Linked DNA regions of Homo sapiens: region 2 is linked to region 1. The links come from fine-mapping of genetic effects on gene expression. A gene starts in region 1. The other region holds a variant in brackets. All regions are shown on one strand. Distances are between the middles of the regions. Region 1 holds the start of TLE1 (TLE family member 1, transcriptional corepressor). Region 2 overlaps TLE1 (TLE family member 1, transcriptional corepressor).

Region 1 (8,336 bases):
GGCTAGGAAAACAAAACAGGCAACTTAATGTAAACATTATGTCACTTGTTTTAACATCTGCCTCACATATTTGCACTTCAAGTAAAAACACAGACCAATTTGGAAAAGCCATAAACTATCTAGGTAAACACCCAAAAGCTTTGTCCTTGCATTTAATAGGGAAAAGGAATAATGTGAACAATACAAGGTGTCCATTCAGCTACCATTCTTCTTGGTGCCTATCTGGTTAGATGACAAGAATGAAAAAAATCTGTCAGAACCTCTAACTGATTCCTCCTCATGGTCATCTGCTCCCTACCTTCCTGCATCAGTTTGTTTCTCTGTACTCCACCAAAATCCGGCCCTTGCACAATCTTCACTCTTAGGCATAGGCTGTGCCATCTTTGCCAACTCAAACGGTCTCTAGGTTTGAAAATCCTATCTGTTAAGTTACTCCTACAATTGCTGGTCCCTTTCAAAACCTTTGGTTTTTAAATCCCTGCCAAAATATGTCAAGTAGCTACTGCAATAAAGTGGGTTGAAGTTCTCCCTGCTGGGTAAACACGGTGTGTGCAAGTATGCCTCAAGCTGCAGAGATATTATCTACAAGTAGACAAAAGGTCAATAATGAGAAAGCCCCTGACAAAGTAAGAAAATTCACACCCAAGCCACTTCGCCTCATCTGTGTGCTTTTTCTCAAGCATGACAAAAGCAAAAAATGTCAATACAGTTATTTCTGAGTTAGAATCAGGTAAAACTTCATAGGAACAAGGGAAAGAAACTAACCTTTCTGGGAAGTTCACTATTGGCAAAGTATTTTACAAAAATTTATAAGTCCTTTGAAGGTAAGTCTCATTACTTGAAGAAACTAAGGCTGAGATGGATATAAATGTGACTCCACTCTCTCATCCTACCCAAACCAATCCGAAATGACGCCAAAGCAGGTGAGCTTTCTTCTTTATACTATTATACCCACCTCCCTCACCATCACCAATGATGGGCAATGTTATAAGCATCTAGCCTTCCTTAATGGACTTTGCCTCAGAAAACCCAATTTTCTAGTATGGCAAACAGCGATTTCAACATGGCTTTGCTTCCCTGAACCCACACTCCAGGACTGAGACATCGATTGAACCAATGTTTCAGCTCAGTCTGCTGAAAAATAAATACATGAAGTGCAAATATTGACGATTCTCATGCAACTCCTAAAGACATGAAAAAGGACTCCCTGGAACAGTGCAAACCGGCAAAAGGGAAACAATGGGAGGAGGAGGAGACAAGAGAAGAGGCGGCCCGGGAAGAACCAGGAAAGGGGGTAACTTGAATGACAGGTCTTAACTGAGACTCCACACGCCACCGCCTGGACGCAAGAACTAAGTACAGGCGCCGCCGCCACCCGGCTGGGTGCAAGGGGCACCGGGACGCCCGCGACCACTCGCATGGCGCGGCCGGACACGCACCTGTGATACTGCGCCTGCAGGAACTGGAATTCCTCTTTAATCCGGTCCAGGGACTCCGGGATAGTGAACTTGAAGGGCTGGCCTGCAGCCTGGTGCGGCGTCTGGGGGCGACCAGCGAGGGGGACCGAGGGACGGGAATGCGGGCGGATGAATAAAGCAGTAAGTCAGAGAAGGCAAGAACGGGTGGGACATAAACATAAAGTTAGAAGTGGCTGAAAACGAGGCCCCAAACTCGAGTTTGCCCTTCACTATGGGGAGGGGGAAAGCGGACCCTCCCCGGGCCCCGGCTTCTAAAGAGGCTCGGAAGCTCTTCCCAGTCTCCAGGGCGGATTGCGCTAAGTGCGCCCGGGTCACCAGGCCAAAGGGAAGGGGGCTCCCCGGCGGCCAGGGAAGACCAGGCCAGATTGTCGGTGTCGCCGCCCCTTCCCCCACGGCGGCGATAATGACCCCGGGGACCAGAGGAGAAAAACAACTCCTTTACGCTCCCCATTCCCAGAGTCGCCGGGGCCACCTCCAGACGCACCGGAACCGGGGCCGCATTGACATGTAAATAGGCGAGAGGAGAAACAAAGGGGGGGGCGCCCTGCCCCCACTCGGGGAAGGTAGAGGGGATATGGCTGCAGGAGAGAAACCCCAGCCTTCCCCAGCGCCCCTGTCCGCTCGGTATAGACGTCAAGTAGGAAGGAGCCCAAAGGGAGGGAGAAAATTAAGAGTTTCGGCCCACTCCCCACCCCAGGAAGAGAGGGCCCCAGACCTCCCCAGCCTTACACCGCTGAGGGCGAGAAGGTCCGCCGGGCCTCAGAAGCCACCAGTCTCCCTACCGCCCGGGAGAAGCGCCTCCCCAACGATCCTGGCCCCCCACCACCACCCAGCCGCGCCTCACCGGGTGCCGGCTCTGCGGGAACATCGCTCTGGCGGCGGCCGGGGCTCTGTTCCCCGGCAACTCAATTCTCCGGTCAATTTCCAACTTTAATCCCGCCGAGGAAAATTAAGCCGGAAAGCCAAGCAGAAGCGGGGAGCGCGCTGGCCACGCACGCGCGCTCCGCCGGGCGCACCGGCCACTCGGCGCCCGCAGCTGCTCCGGCTCCCGCTCCCGTCGGTGCGGGCTCCGGCCCTCAGGGCCACATTAGTGGGCGCCCCAGGCCCAGCTGCTTCAAGAACCTGCGCGGAGACGTCGGGCGCTCGGGGACTGTGCGCGGGGGCAGCGCTCCAACCCCCGGCCTCAGCTGCCCGGGCGGGGAGGCGGGGGCGCGGTGACTCCGACCGCACTCCCCTCGGCGATCCGCGTGCGCGGCGCCAGTCCTGGGCAAACAAATCCAGACGGACTGCTTTTCTTTGCTCTTCTCCTGGTCCGCCTCCTCTTCGGGCTTTCCCCGAGGCGGCGGCGGGCGAGGTGCAGGTGGCGCGGCGGCCCCCGCTAACCCCACACAAACCCGACGCTTTCGGGGCGACTCCCGCAAGATTCGGCTGCGCCTTCGGCCGGGTGCTCGCAGGCTCCCGGGACGCAAAGGGGAGCGAGGTTGAAGACGCAGCGGAGGCTCCTGGCCGGGGAGCGACGGATGACGAGGCGGGGAAAGTGCGGAGGGCGCGCCGGGAGGCGGCTCGGCACGCCCCGTGCGACCAGCACTCGGTGTTCTCCGCGGTTGCACAAACCCTCCGGGCCCGACGGGGCTACTCCACCGAGAGCAGTCCCGCAAGTGCCCAATGCTCCTCGAGCCCGGGGAGCATCAGGGCGCCGCGCCTCGGGCGCACTCGCCCTGCACGGCCGGACCGGCCGCTCCGGACCCTTCTTCCGAGCTCCTTCTTCCTCGGTCTTCTTTCTTTCCTTCCTTCACCTTCGTGTGCTTCTCCGCAAAGGGCGCTCCAGCCCACTGCAAAGTTCTCTCACCACCCGAGGGACGACATCCACGAGATGGTGGGGAAAACAGCAGGAGTGCGCTCCGCCAATCGGCCACCCTCCCCGGCGGGCAAACTCTGCGGGCGAGTCCAGAGTAGTCACAGCGGTGGGGCCAGCGGGGGTTTTGGTCGCCGCGGGACGACGGAGGTCCGGGCTGGTGGCGCGGGTCCCGCCCGGCCGTGCGAGGGTGGGGTGGCGCAGTCGGCTGCCTCCGGGACGCGGGGCACAGAGTACCCGCCGCTGTTTCTGCTGCTGCTGCTTCTGCAGCCGCCGCTCCCACCGCCGCCGCCGCCCGCGCCTCTCGCGCCGCTTACATTAACACGCGGTTTCACACTCCGGAGCTAACCAGCGCCGGCCCCGCCCAGCCCCGTTCGGGCGGGGGGCGCGAGCGCGGAGCCGGCGGGGGACGTGAGCCCGGGAGGTTGGGGGGTGGGGGGGGGGCAGAAGGCCCGCATCAGCCAATCGCGTGCGCTGCAACCAACGTGGGGCGCTGACGCGCTCCTCCCCGGAGCGTATGGCAGCGCAGCGCCGGACGGGGCGTTCTCCCTCCCCCCCTCCTCTCGCTTCCATCTCCGCCGTCTCCTCGGTCTCCCTTCCCATCCCGGCCCCTCCTCCGCCAGCCGCGTCCTCCCGGGCTTGGTGAGGAACTGTTCCTGGAGGAGCCGCGGGACGCCAAAACCAGCCAATGGGAAGCGGCGATTCGCGGAGATTGGCACTGATGATGGGAAGGTCGGTGGGAAGGAGAGCGGCGGGGCTGGGCTGTCAATCAAAGTAACGTGGGGCTGGCTAGAGAGCGCGCGGGCGCGCGCTAGCGGGAGGGACTGGCGAGCGTGCAGCCGGGGAAGCTGAGGGCTCGAGTTAGCAAAAATCCTGCCACTTGCTCACTTTTCCCTTTAATGAAAATCCTCAGATCTAAGTGAAAGTAACTCAAAGACTAGCTGCGGAGTTTCTTATTGGAGGCGGAGGGGGGCTTTTGGTAATTCGAGCAAATGTGTTTTTCAGTGCTGGACCCCTTGTTTGATGCTACTCTAAAAGTGAGGCCACATTCAAAAATTTATCTGAGGTTTGTTTTTCCTTGAGCTGCCTTTTTACGGATGTACGAGAGGGAGTGGACTGTGCACTTAGTTGGAAATGCGTAAATGAGCAACGCCACGGTTGGCGTAGGTACACCAGCAAAGACGACTGTGATGTCCTCCCACCCCACCCACCCCCTTTGCACCCAAAGTGGTAGGATTTGATTTTTATTGCAGGATTTCAAGCCACTTTTCAAAAAGATCGTCCTGTCCCGTTTGGCGGGAAGGATTCCCAGGGTGCTGCCAGAACAAGGCACGCGTGTCCGCAGATGAGACGTTTTGCCCGGGGCGCGAAATCCCAGGTCTTCGTCTTAAAAGTCCTGACTTCGCTGTGTTGGGAGAGGTGGGGAGCGGCTGAGGTTTTTAGGAACTTCTCAGCTACAAGACTACGAGTCTGTTTCCAATTCCTGGGAACAAAGAGAGACAATGTAATAAACCAGCACTGAGACCTGAAAAACCTGTCCCGCACACCCCACCCCCACAGTCTGGGTGGTACTCCTGAGCTGAGCTGTGTGAAGAGCTAAATGGGAAGAGTTAGGTAAATGACGTGGCTAAGGTTCTTATGAAGTGGAACTTGAGTTAAAAGGGATTTTGAGATTGTAATAATCAAGACATGCTGTATAATTAATGCTGAGAGTCTTTGGTTTTTGTGTATGTCTCTAAATACACAGCAGAAAACCGTCAGTATTGCCGCATTTATGCTTTTGTTTGAGGAACATTTCCACATGAGCAGTGAATGAATAATGCTGGTTTAGCCAAACGGTGGTAACTTCTTCCATAAGGGCACATCTTGGACAAGTATTTATCTTATGTTGGAAACTAGTTAAGTTTTTGGTATTAATAACCCCCACGTTATTATTTTATTATTTTACCTTCAAGAGACTTACGGGAAGGAGCTTATTTAAACAGACATACATTTTATTTAAAGATGTGCTTTTACAGAGTTCTTTTTCTTGAAATAGTTTTAGAAGTCATTTTAGATAATACATTTCACTGTTGGAGTTGTTTTTAAATATGTATGATATTGATTTGTCTATAATTGCATCACTCCCAAATATCAATTATAAATGAAAAAATAAAAAAGCGATTTTAACCAGTCTGTACGAAGCCATAGTAAATTCTTAAACAAGTTGGGCATTGTAGCTTTGTGGTGTTCTCATTAAGTACAGTTGGGAAGGCGGCTGTATTATTCATTTTGCTAACATGGAGAACAAAAAAGAAGAAAGCACTGCCTCACTTTCCTTGGTTAAATTTGGTGACGATGACAGTTTTGCTCGACATACAGGACTTTTTGGAATCATAGGATCCCAGGGCCTTTAGCAACCTGTTTTCCTTGAAATTATCTAGTGATTGAGCCACATATACCAGTCTGCGGCCAGTTCATCCCATAATCAGCTCCAGGACCGGACAGAAAGTGCTTGGATGCCACAAGTATGCTTGTATACATGCTGTGACAACTGGAGCAACTGATATTCCTCCCCGGCTTACCCAGGCTTTATGTGGTGCCTGTATCTTGAATAACTGGCACACTCCCATTAAGTTTAAACAGAGCCATTAAAATATGCTTTGAGATGGGGCAAAAGTGTTGCTACTTCTCTTCTTTCCCCACCCCGCTGCCCTCAAAATCAGTACTAAGGCATCTTTAAATGTTCTCTAACATAACTACTCACAGACAATGTGTCTGCTCACCATATTTCCCAGTTTGCCATGAGTAAACACTAGAAATTCTCTTTTAACTAGTCTTTCCTTGCCAATAGAGTTTGAAACACCAGGCCTTCTGATTTCCTTATAATGAAGTATCTGTAGTATCTACAGAGCATTATGAATTTAAAATTGGAAGGCCTTTAATTGTGTGCATAAAAATGGTTGGTTTTGGTTTTTGAAGCCTTTTTTTCCCATTTAGAGCATCGTCTGTCAGAGTGGGAGAAGGCTCTGCCCTTTTCAAGGTCATATTTTCTCCACGATTGTCATGCTGTAATAATTATACTACAAAACTCTCATCAAACTGCATTACAAATGACGGCGTTTAAACAGTCAAGTAGCTTTAATCTTATGTTTTAAATAAATAATATATGTGCAGATTGCCTACAGCCTGTTTAAAAGAAAATAGTCCTCCTCATGAAATCTATAATTTTGGTCTTCCATTTAAAGCCTGTTAACCATAATCTTCTTTACCTTTAACATTCATATGTCAATGATGTTTTTATGTGAAATGTATGATGCTCCCACTGGAAATTTTCTCTGAAAAACACAGTACCCTTTTTATGCTCTGCAGAGAAACAGAAAGATTGTCAGCTTGTTCATTTTCTTTTGATGCATATGTGGGTATATTCCCATTCATTTGTTGCTGATTATCAAATTTTCAACTCAGCAATAGCCTAAGTAATTACAAAAGCTAGATGTTATCTAGTACAGATACTAAACAAAATAGGAAAAGTTATAGATGCTGATCGTAGCAACTAGACATCTTTTAAATCTATTACTTTTTTATTTGAAATAATAATTGTAATTTTTTAATTTTTTTTGGAGACGGAGTCTCACTCTGTCTCCCAGGCTGAAGTGCAGTGGTGCCATCTCAGCTCACTGCAACCTCTGCCTCTTGGGTTCGAGATTCTCCTGCCTCAGCCTCCCCAGTAGCTGGGACTACAGGCGTGTGCCACCACACCCGGCTAATTTTTATATTTTTAGTATAGACGGGGTTTCGCCTTGTTGGCCAGGCTGGTCTCAAACTCCTGACCTCGTGATCCGCCCTCCTCAGCCTCCCAAAGTGCTGGGATTACAGGCATGCACCACCACACCTGGCCAATAATTATAGTTTTTAACAGACCACTTTTGTTGTGTTCTCTTCCTTTTAGCTGAGAATTATTGCTCATACATTTCCTCATTTGACTTTTTTTTTTTTTTTGAGTCAGCATCTCGCTCTGTCACCCAAGCTGGAGTGCAGTGGTGCGATCTCAGCTCGTTGCAACCTCCGCCTCCGAGGTTCAAGCGATTCATGTGCCTCAGTCTCCTGAGCAGCTGGGATAACAGGCGTGTACCACCACGCCCGGCTAATTTTTGTATTTTTAGCGGAGACAGGGTTTCACCATGTTGGCCAGGCTGGTCTCGAACTTCTAACATCAGGTGATCCGACCGCCTTGGCCTCCCAAAGTGCCGGGATTACAAGCGTGAGCCACCCCGCCCCACCTTTTTTTTTTTTTAATTGATAGTTTTCTTAAACCTAAGAATGTAGGGTCCAGAAGAATTTTTCCCAGCATTTCTTGGTAATCTTTTTCTCCCCCACTCCTTTACCAAAGAAAAGGGCAAGATGGACGTGGAGGTGAAAGGAAGAACGCAGAGAAGGGAAAAAAAATCAGTAGCAGATCCATGCAGCAGTAAAACCTCAAATAAAATCACTTCCAAAGAATCTCTTGCGGTTTCACACAATATGGTAAAATTAGAGATTGCAGGAAACCAACTAAATTAAACTGGGAGCATTTGAAGAGAAATGAGCAGACTTTATGAAAATGACACATTGACTGACCAGTATGCTTTTTTATCAACAATTTCTTTGTTAAGACGAAGATCAAAGGAACCTGCATATGTTTTCATTTTGTTCTAACTAGAAAATTACATCCAGATGTTTAATAGGCATTTGGTTGGTTTTTCAGCATTGATTAGATATGTTGGTTCTGTTTGCTTACAAGTGCAGCCGGATCATTAGCTAATGCAAAGAAATGTTTGCTGTGAGTTGCTAATTAGGGCTTTTGGAAGCCCTCCATGCTCAAGAACAATTTGTACTGTGGCCAGAAGAACTTGAGGGACTTGGGGAAGTTGTTTTCCCTTCTCTGTCAGAGTGGGGAGAAGCAGAAAGCCCTATTCCCTAATCTCCCTTTGCCTAGGGGGATTGCGATGAGATCCCCAAGGATTGGAGTGCAAATAAAGTAG
Region 2 (8,336 bases), 33 kb before region 1:
CGTGGATCACTAAAGTCTAACAACTACTGATATACTCAAAAGGCAGACAAATCTATTGTCATATCAGACAGACAAAGGTTATGGTGGAAGAGGCTGTTACAACAATAATGAGATGGTGACCATCCGGCATGGAGCAACAGGTGCCAACCAGGATACCCAGTATTCCAACTCCTAGTCCAATAAACTTTCCACCCTGCGTGAAGATGCATTCATCCCGTGCACACTTAGAACACGTTACAGCATTTACTAGCTTATATCCAGAAGGAAGGTAAACTTTTCAAGGCAAAGCTAAAATACAATAGTCTTGAGTCAGTTTCATAGATTACTCATATAAAGAGATTCCTCCCTCAAAGAATGTTAAGATTAAACCTCTATGACTTTGTAACTAAACAAAATAGCTTATACATACATATGACTCATTAAGTTAATGTATTTTGGACTATTATCATCCACCCCTTCAAGGACAGCATTAAGACAACTGCCTTGATACATAAGTACAAAAGAACTATCTGCCTCCATAGTAAAGTCTACCTTGATGGAACCATTTTTAAAAGTCAGTATGAGAACAGCTTTCTATTTAAAAGATATAAAAGACACCTGAATTTTCAGTAGCTCTCAAGCTTATGCTACTTAAAGCAAAAGCTGTACATTGGATAGTCATTTTGCAGTTTTCCACAGGAAAAAAAATTAATTTGGGGGTTGAGCTATTGTCACCATTTCTACAGTGTGCCCTCAGATGTGTTGGATAGACTAGCAGGGGGTTTACACACTTCAGCTGTAACAGATGTTCTTCACACTTGTTCCTTGTGATAAAATTAACATCTTAAAACTAGCTAATTTGCAAACAGAGAAGCAACATAATTGCACTTTAACAGCTGAACAATTTTACTTACTTCCTGAGACAGAAATGGGATGACTTGTGCACAAATCGTATTCAATCTCTTGGCGATTTCAGTCTATAAAGACAAAGCCACACAAATGTTTAGAATACTTCACAATCAGTTCAGAAAGGTAAAACTTCATACCCCTAACACTTCAGTCCTCCTCTCCCTTGCTCTGGAAATGTGTATAAAATGGTTTCCCCAGGTTATGTTACTAATACTTATCTTGAAATAAACAGTAGATATTAATCCCACTTGCAAAGTAAGCCACAACTGCACACTTCATTGTAATAAGAGATGAGTAGTTTGATTGAGTTGGAAAATCTAGGCGGTTTAAGGCTATATGATCATTTAATATGGTGACTATATATATATACACATATATATATGTATTTTTGAGACAGAGTCTTGCTCTGTCGCCCAGGCTGGAGTGCAGTGGCACGATCTCGGCTCACCACAAGCTCTGCCTCCCGGGTTCACACCCTTCTCCTGCCTCAGCCTCCCAAGTAGCTGGGACTACAGGCGCCCGCCACCACTCCCGGCTAATTTTTTTCTATTTTTAGTAGAGGTGGGGTTTCACCGTGTTAGCCAGGATGGTCTCGATCTCCTGACCTCGTGATCCGCCCGCCTCGGCCTCCCAAAGTGCTGGGATTACAGGCGTGAGCCACTGCACCCAGCCAAGTGTACTTTTTCAATGATGGCACACCATGACACATTTATGTCATTATTGCAAGTTCATTCAAGCGGGTGTCAGAAGCCACTGCAGCTGCAGCACTGTCAAAGCAGTCCACCTTTCAAAGATGAGGCCTAAGGTGATAGAGTAGAAGAAAGGCCTGCTGACCTCTTTGCCACTTGTCCCAGCTCTTGTACAACTGAAAAAGGATTTTATTGTTCATAGCTTCCCTAAGTCTCAAACTTTCAAACAAACCAAGAAAACATGACTAAAAACATTCCAGTCTAGAGGGTGATGGTCAAGTCATGATATCCTGAGTATTCGGAAAGTTTCGCCACAGTTCAGTAACAAACTCAAAGACCTCACCGACAGGGCCCAGGGGTCAGCTGAACATAATAAAAGGTGTCCTTAGTGTCTATAGCACGGGCTGTTTTAAAGAAGGCAGGAAAGGCCGGGTGCGGTGGCTCGCGCCTGTAATCCCAGCACTTTCTGAGGCCAAGGCATGTGGATTATGAGGTCAGGAGTTCAAGACCAGCCTAGCCAAGATGGTGAAACCCCGTCTCTACTCAAAATACAAAAATTAGCCGGGCGTGATGGTGGGCGCCTGTAATACCAGCTACTCGGGAGGCTGCGGCAGAGAACTGCTTGAACGAGGGAGGTGCAGGCTGCAGTGAGCCGAGATCACGCCACTGCACTCCAGCCTGTGCGACAGTGAGACTCCACCTCAAAAAATAAAAAAAATAAAGAAGGCTGGAAAAACCTTTGCTCCGCTCCACATCCACAGCAGTCCCTCTGCTACAAGGGACAAAAACTGGCAAGAGAGGGAACAGAGGGTACTCTACTTCTAGCCCAGGGAAGGGTCCACCTGCAGCACCTCCAACACCCTACAGCAATGCAAAGCAGCTCTGCTTTCCTCTACCTAGGAAGAACCAGTTCTGCTTTTTTAAAAAAGAAAAAAAAAGTCATCTGTAAAGAGGCCCATCCTTGACCTTACTTATTTCATCATTTTGTCAATGCTTACTAAATGCCACCTATATTACTGAATTAAGCAATGAAAAGGATCACAAGAAAAAAACTTAAAAGCACGCAGTCCATGACCTTGAGAAATAGAGAATGGAAAAAGACAAAGTAGAAATCCCAGGAACAAAGTCGAGCCTGCGGTGAGCTGAGATCGCGCCACTATACTCCAGCCAAGGCGACAGAGCAAGACCCTGTCTCAAAAAAAAAAAAAAAAAGAAAAGAAAAGAACAAAACCCCAGGAACTTTACAATCAAGCATATAAAAAACAGCAGCCTTGTATCTTCTAAGATGATCTGAATTAACTAAGCAAAGTCTTTGGTTTTATAAGATTGGATTTAGTCTGACCCAACCCAATTCTCCCTGACCACCAATGAGACAAGGTTACAGACAGACCATGCCTTGGACAAAATGTACTAGAAGGGGAAATGACTGGTAGAGAGAGGAAGCCCGTGCATGACCTTGCTTTAGCCAGCGAGGCAGATATATGCAAAAAGGGTGCAGCTGTACCAGGTACAAAAACAGAACTGGGTCAGCCCCACCCAGTTCATTTGATCACAGCCACCCACTCAAGCTACCTCAAGGTCATGGCTCTCCTC[G/A]AAAGCATGGGCAAGGCTTTCCTTTGCAACAGGGTTCTGCACTGTCTATTTGAGTGCATGTAAAGGAGTAGAGATGCCTTTGGTAGGTATCCTACTTAGGTCCTTGCTCCCAACTCCCTACCTACCACACATTCCTGCAACACTCTGTACATTCCTCTTCTCGGAAATTCACATTGAAGGTTTCCAGTTTTAAAAATGATATATGCTCACTTTGAACTCATACACATGCACACAGATACATATACAGAAATATAAAAGAAAGTTAAAATAACCCTGAGCCCATCATCCAAGGATAAGCATGGGTAACATATTGGTGATTTTAGGATACCATCATTCCAGGTTCTCACTTATGTGCACAGAAGCCCAGAGTGAGAGACACATTTTAATACCAAGGGGTTTCCGTTACATACCCTGCCTTTCTATAATTTGTTAATCAAACATGTGTCAGGGACACCATCCCAGTCAATACAGATTAACAAGTACCTTGAAACATTCCACCATACAAGCATATAGATGTCTAAGTACTATTGACACCAGTGAATATTTATGTTTCATTTAATTTTGCACAATTAACAACTCTGTCAAATACGCCTCCACACAGATCTCTAAAAGGAATCCCTAGATGTGAAACTGCTGGGTCAAAGTGTATGCATATTTTAAGTTGCAATGCATGCTGCCAAACTGCCCAGCAGAAAAGCTGTACCAATTATTGCGAGTTTAGGAGGGTTCCTGCTCTCCCACCCAGTGTCAATATTGAGTTTTGTTGACCTTCCTTTAATCTTCATCCATCTAATGGATTAAAAAATGACCTCATTTTTATTTGCATTACTTGAATTCTTCCTCTAGTTAAACATCTTTTCATGTATTTATTGCTCCACTCTATGTTTCCTTTCTCCATTCTTCCATTGTTGCTTAATCATTTTTGTCCTTTGGTGGTGCTTCCTTGAATGGGACAAATATTAACCCTTTATCAGAGTTTGCTCAGCTTGCCACTTGTCTTTCAACCTTGCTTAATATGATTTTTTTGCTGTATAGAACTTTAAGTCTTTATGTGGTCAAATGAAAGCATTTTCTTCCTATGCTCCTGGCCTTTAGGTAAAGATTAGAACACATCAATATCATAAAAGCCATTCTTACTTTTCTTCTAGTGTGCTATGGCTGCACTTTTTATGCTTAACTATTTAACTGGAATTTATTTTGGTTTAAGAAAAGATGCCCTCATCTTTAACTATGATAGCAACTATGTGTTACTACCTAGAATGGCATCAAAGTAGACTTGAACATGGTCGGAGGACAGTTAAGATCCAGTCTGAATGAAATGAACTTGTAAACCTTTAATAATATTAAAGTTATCAAAAATAAAATAAAGAAAAGAAAGACATATGAAAGCAAAGGCAATGAATACAGTGGTCTCTCGGTATCTGTGAGGGATTGGTTCAGAATCCCCCATGGAAACCAAAATCTAAGGATGCTCAAGTCCTTTATATAAAATGGTGTATTTGCATATAACCTATGCACATCTACCCATACACTTTAAATCATCTCCAGATTACTTAAAATACCTAATACAATGTAAATCCTAGGTAAATGGTTGTTGTATTATTTAGGAAATAATGACAAGAAAAAAGTCTGTACATGTTCACTACAGACATAATTTTTTTTTTTTTTTTTTTTTTTAAGACAGAGTCTCGCTCTGTCACCTAGGCTGGAGTGCAGTGGCACAGTCTTGGCTCACTGCAACCTCCACCTCCCGGGTTCTAAGGAACTCTCCTGCCTCAGCCTCCCAAGTAGCTGGGATTACAGGCACGTGCCACCATGCCCGGCTAATTTTTTGTATTTTTAGTAAAGACGGGGTTTCACCATGTAGAACAGGCTGATTTTAAACTCCTGACCTCAAGTGATCCACCTGCCTCAGCCTCCCAAAGTGCTAGGATTTATAATCCTAGCATGAGCCACTGTGCCTGGCCGATGCAATGTTTTTTAAAAAAAAGTATTTTCAAACCATGGTTAGCTGAATTCACAGATGCAGAACCCACAGATACAAAGGGCCGACTGTACTATGTAAGTTGGGTTAGACTGGATAAGCCTGAAACAGGAGGAGAAAAGTTAGAAATCAAAGCTCAAACTGATGAAAAACATCGAAAGCCATACCATATGTCCTGGAAATTCTACATAAATGGTCTGGAGAAGAAGCAAATAGGAGCAATAGAGGAGAGTCTTACCCAAGACTTCCCCTCCGTCTGCCAGGTCTCTAAACCCTAATCTTAAACTATACTGACAAGCCAGCTTGACTTTTGAGCCAGAAAATCTAAATCCAAGTCTTGGACTGTTCTATTAACAAGCTGGTTTACCCCAGAAAAGGCGCTGACGTCCTCTGAAATACCCTGGCTCCTTCACCTGCACAACCTACCTCCTGGCAGGTGAGGGTACACAGCTTACCCAACAATGCTCTGTGAGTCCTAAAACATCACTAGCTCTCCAAGAGGACTTCATGAACATCTTCCCTTCAAATAGTCTGGATTGCAGCAGCATACAAACTGGCAATAATTCTTAGTATTATCTCTTGCTTCAACAAAAGGGTATTCTGGTAAGATTCTTAATTTAGCACAAATTAACAAGTCTCGTAGTGACTTTATTTTATTTATGTATTTATTTATCTATTTATTTATTTTTTTTTTAGATGGAGTCTTGCTCTGTCACCAGGCTGGAGTACAGTGGAGCCATCTTAGCTCACTGCAACCTCCGACTCCCTGGTTAAAGCAATTCTCCTTCCTCAGCCTCGCGAGTAGCTGGGATGACAGGCACGCGCCACCACACCTGGCTAATTTTTCTATTTTTAGTAGAGATGGGGTTTCACCATGTTGGCCAGGATGGTCTCGATCTCCTGATCCTCGTGATCCGCCCACCTCAGCCTCCCAAAGTGGTGGGATTACAGGCGTGAGCCACCGCGCCTGGCCTCTCGTAGTGACTCCTGCCCATGCTTCTATTCTTGATTGGAGTGTGCTGGCAGGTTAACCTGGGTATTTGACCCTGCTGCCTTCCACCTCTTGCAAAGGCTAGACAACTCCAGTGAAAAACTGAGGGCTAACTGTATTTCCCACCTAGAAATAATTTTCCTACCCAATGATGAATACCTATTTGGTACCCACTAAGTCATAATGCTTATAAACTTTCCCTGTGCCTAGATTTTTTAATACTGTGTAAGGCAACAACAATAAATCTGCATTCAAGAGCTATCCACAAACCAAATCTGCATGAAACCCTCCACTCAGAAATGTAAGCAGCAGGATGAAGGCTCCAGCAACAAGACTTTCTTCATGGATGGCCACCACCTACTGAGGCAGGAGGAAGCAGGAGTCCAAATTACCTGTCTACAACAGTCTTTCATTCTCCTTACCTATGCCAACTCTCCTCACTGATTTGCATATGGTAATACAGTTAGCCCTCATCATCCAAAAATTAGGGTTTGCATCTTGGCAAACTACTGCTAGGGGTTCTATGTTAAATCACTTAAACCACTGGGTCCCAACCAGGTCTCGTACTTAACAGGATTACCACCAATCTACTTGAGAGTTTCATCAAAATCGAGTGAGCTGATGAGCTGGTATGTAAGGTATACTATTCCAAAGTGCTGTACAAATATGAGAGATCTTCCCAATCCCTCAAGGCCTGCCTCAAATTCACTGAGAAGCTGCCTTTCCCCCATAACGCCAATAAACGCACTCTTCTCTAGGCCCTTCAAGATCCTCCACAGCACTTACTGTCATTTGGTAAACTAAACCTATGTGCTTAAAAATCACCATGTCATACAAAGAAAGCTTCCATACAGTTTCTTAACAGCTTTCTACCTAAAAGCCTTCTCAACACAACAAGATGGGAAGCATTACGAGAACACGACTCCTACTAAATACTGTGACACATTTCTTTGCCGTACCTCCCCTACTAAAACTGATGCCAGGGTACATATTTAATATACTTTCAAAGTCATGCCTCAATGAACCAAAACTTAATCTCCATGCACCCCTAAATTCAATGGCCAAGGTGCAACCAGATAAACCATTACTAAACAGTGCTAGACAAAGGCTGTTCACAAAAAAAAAAAAACAAAATCATACGTTGGTAAGTATAAAATTCATGTACATGTATGGTTTTATTTTTTTATTTTATTATTATTATTTTTTGAGACAGAGTCTCGTTCTGTCGCCCAAGCTGGAGAGCAGTGGCGCGATCTCGGCTCACTGCAAGCTATGCCTCCTGGGTTCATGCCATTCTCCTGCCTCAGCCTCCTGAGTAGCTGGGACTACAGGTGCCTGCTACCACACCCGGCTAATTTTTTTTTGTATTTTTAGTAGAGACGGGGTTTCACTGTGTTAGCCAGGATGGTCTCCAACTCCTGACCTCGTGATTCGCCGGTCTCAGCCTCCCAAAGTGCTGGGATTACAGGCATGAGCCACCATGCCCAGCTACATGTATGTTTTAACTGAGCAGAAATACGGCCAAGGACCTCAGAGATCAGCAATCAATCAAACTCTAGTGTATTCTGCGACTTTTAAATTCAAGATATGGCCGGGCGTGGTGGCTCACGCCTGTAATCCCAGCACTTTGGGAGGCCGAGGCGGGAGGATCACGAGGTCAGGAGGTCAAGACCATTCTGGCTAACACGGTGAAACCCCATCCCTACTAAACACACACACACACACACACACACACACACACACACACACACACATTTAGCCTGGCGTGGTGGCACGTGCCTGTAGTTCCAGCTACTCAGAAGCCTGAGGCAGAATTGCTTGAACCTGGGAGGCAGAGGTTGCAGTGAGCTGAGATGGCGCCACTGCACTCCAGCCTGGCAGAGTGAGACTCGGTCTCAAAAATAAAAATAAATAAAAATAAATAAAAATAAAAAATACATATATATTTATATATATGTATTTTTATATATATATGTATTTTTATATATATATATATCTTTTTTTCAAGATATGGTCTTCTGAGTAGCTGAACTTAAGAGTTTAGGGTTCTATAATTCCTAAAACCACCTTTCCTACTTCTCATACTTTGTCTAACTGCAATACGGAAGAGCCCACTCCTCAGCGCCCGCACACTTCCCCACTACACATACAGTAGTGCATAATGAGTGCTGTTTGAAGCTCAAAACAGGGT

The links.
Region 2: its variant is fine-mapped to the expression of TLE1 in whole blood (TOPMed, PIP above 0.99).

What each region holds. Positions count from the first base shown.
Region 1 is chr9:81,685,895-81,694,230 of GRCh38, forward strand. TLE1 (TLE family member 1, transcriptional corepressor) reads right to left here and starts at 3,653. Exons shown (of 20, transcript NM_005077.5): 1 at 2,323-3,653; 2 at 1,440-1,540; 3 at 1-2. The coding sequence starts at 2,346. It overlaps TLE1-DT (TLE1 divergent transcript), which reads left to right and starts at 3,819. Exons shown (of 4, transcript NR_109772.1): 1 at 3,819-4,065. RefSeq lists an enhancer at 2,964-3,678 and silencers at 3,551-3,900, 4,051-4,200.
Region 2 is chr9:81,653,081-81,661,416 of GRCh38, forward strand. TLE1 (TLE family member 1, transcriptional corepressor) reads right to left here. Exons shown (of 20, transcript NM_005077.5): 5 at 894-956. Among named protein-coding and RNA genes, the nearest start is that of TLE1, 32 kb to the right of the region's middle. The variant G/A (reference allele first, on the strand shown) is at 3,171.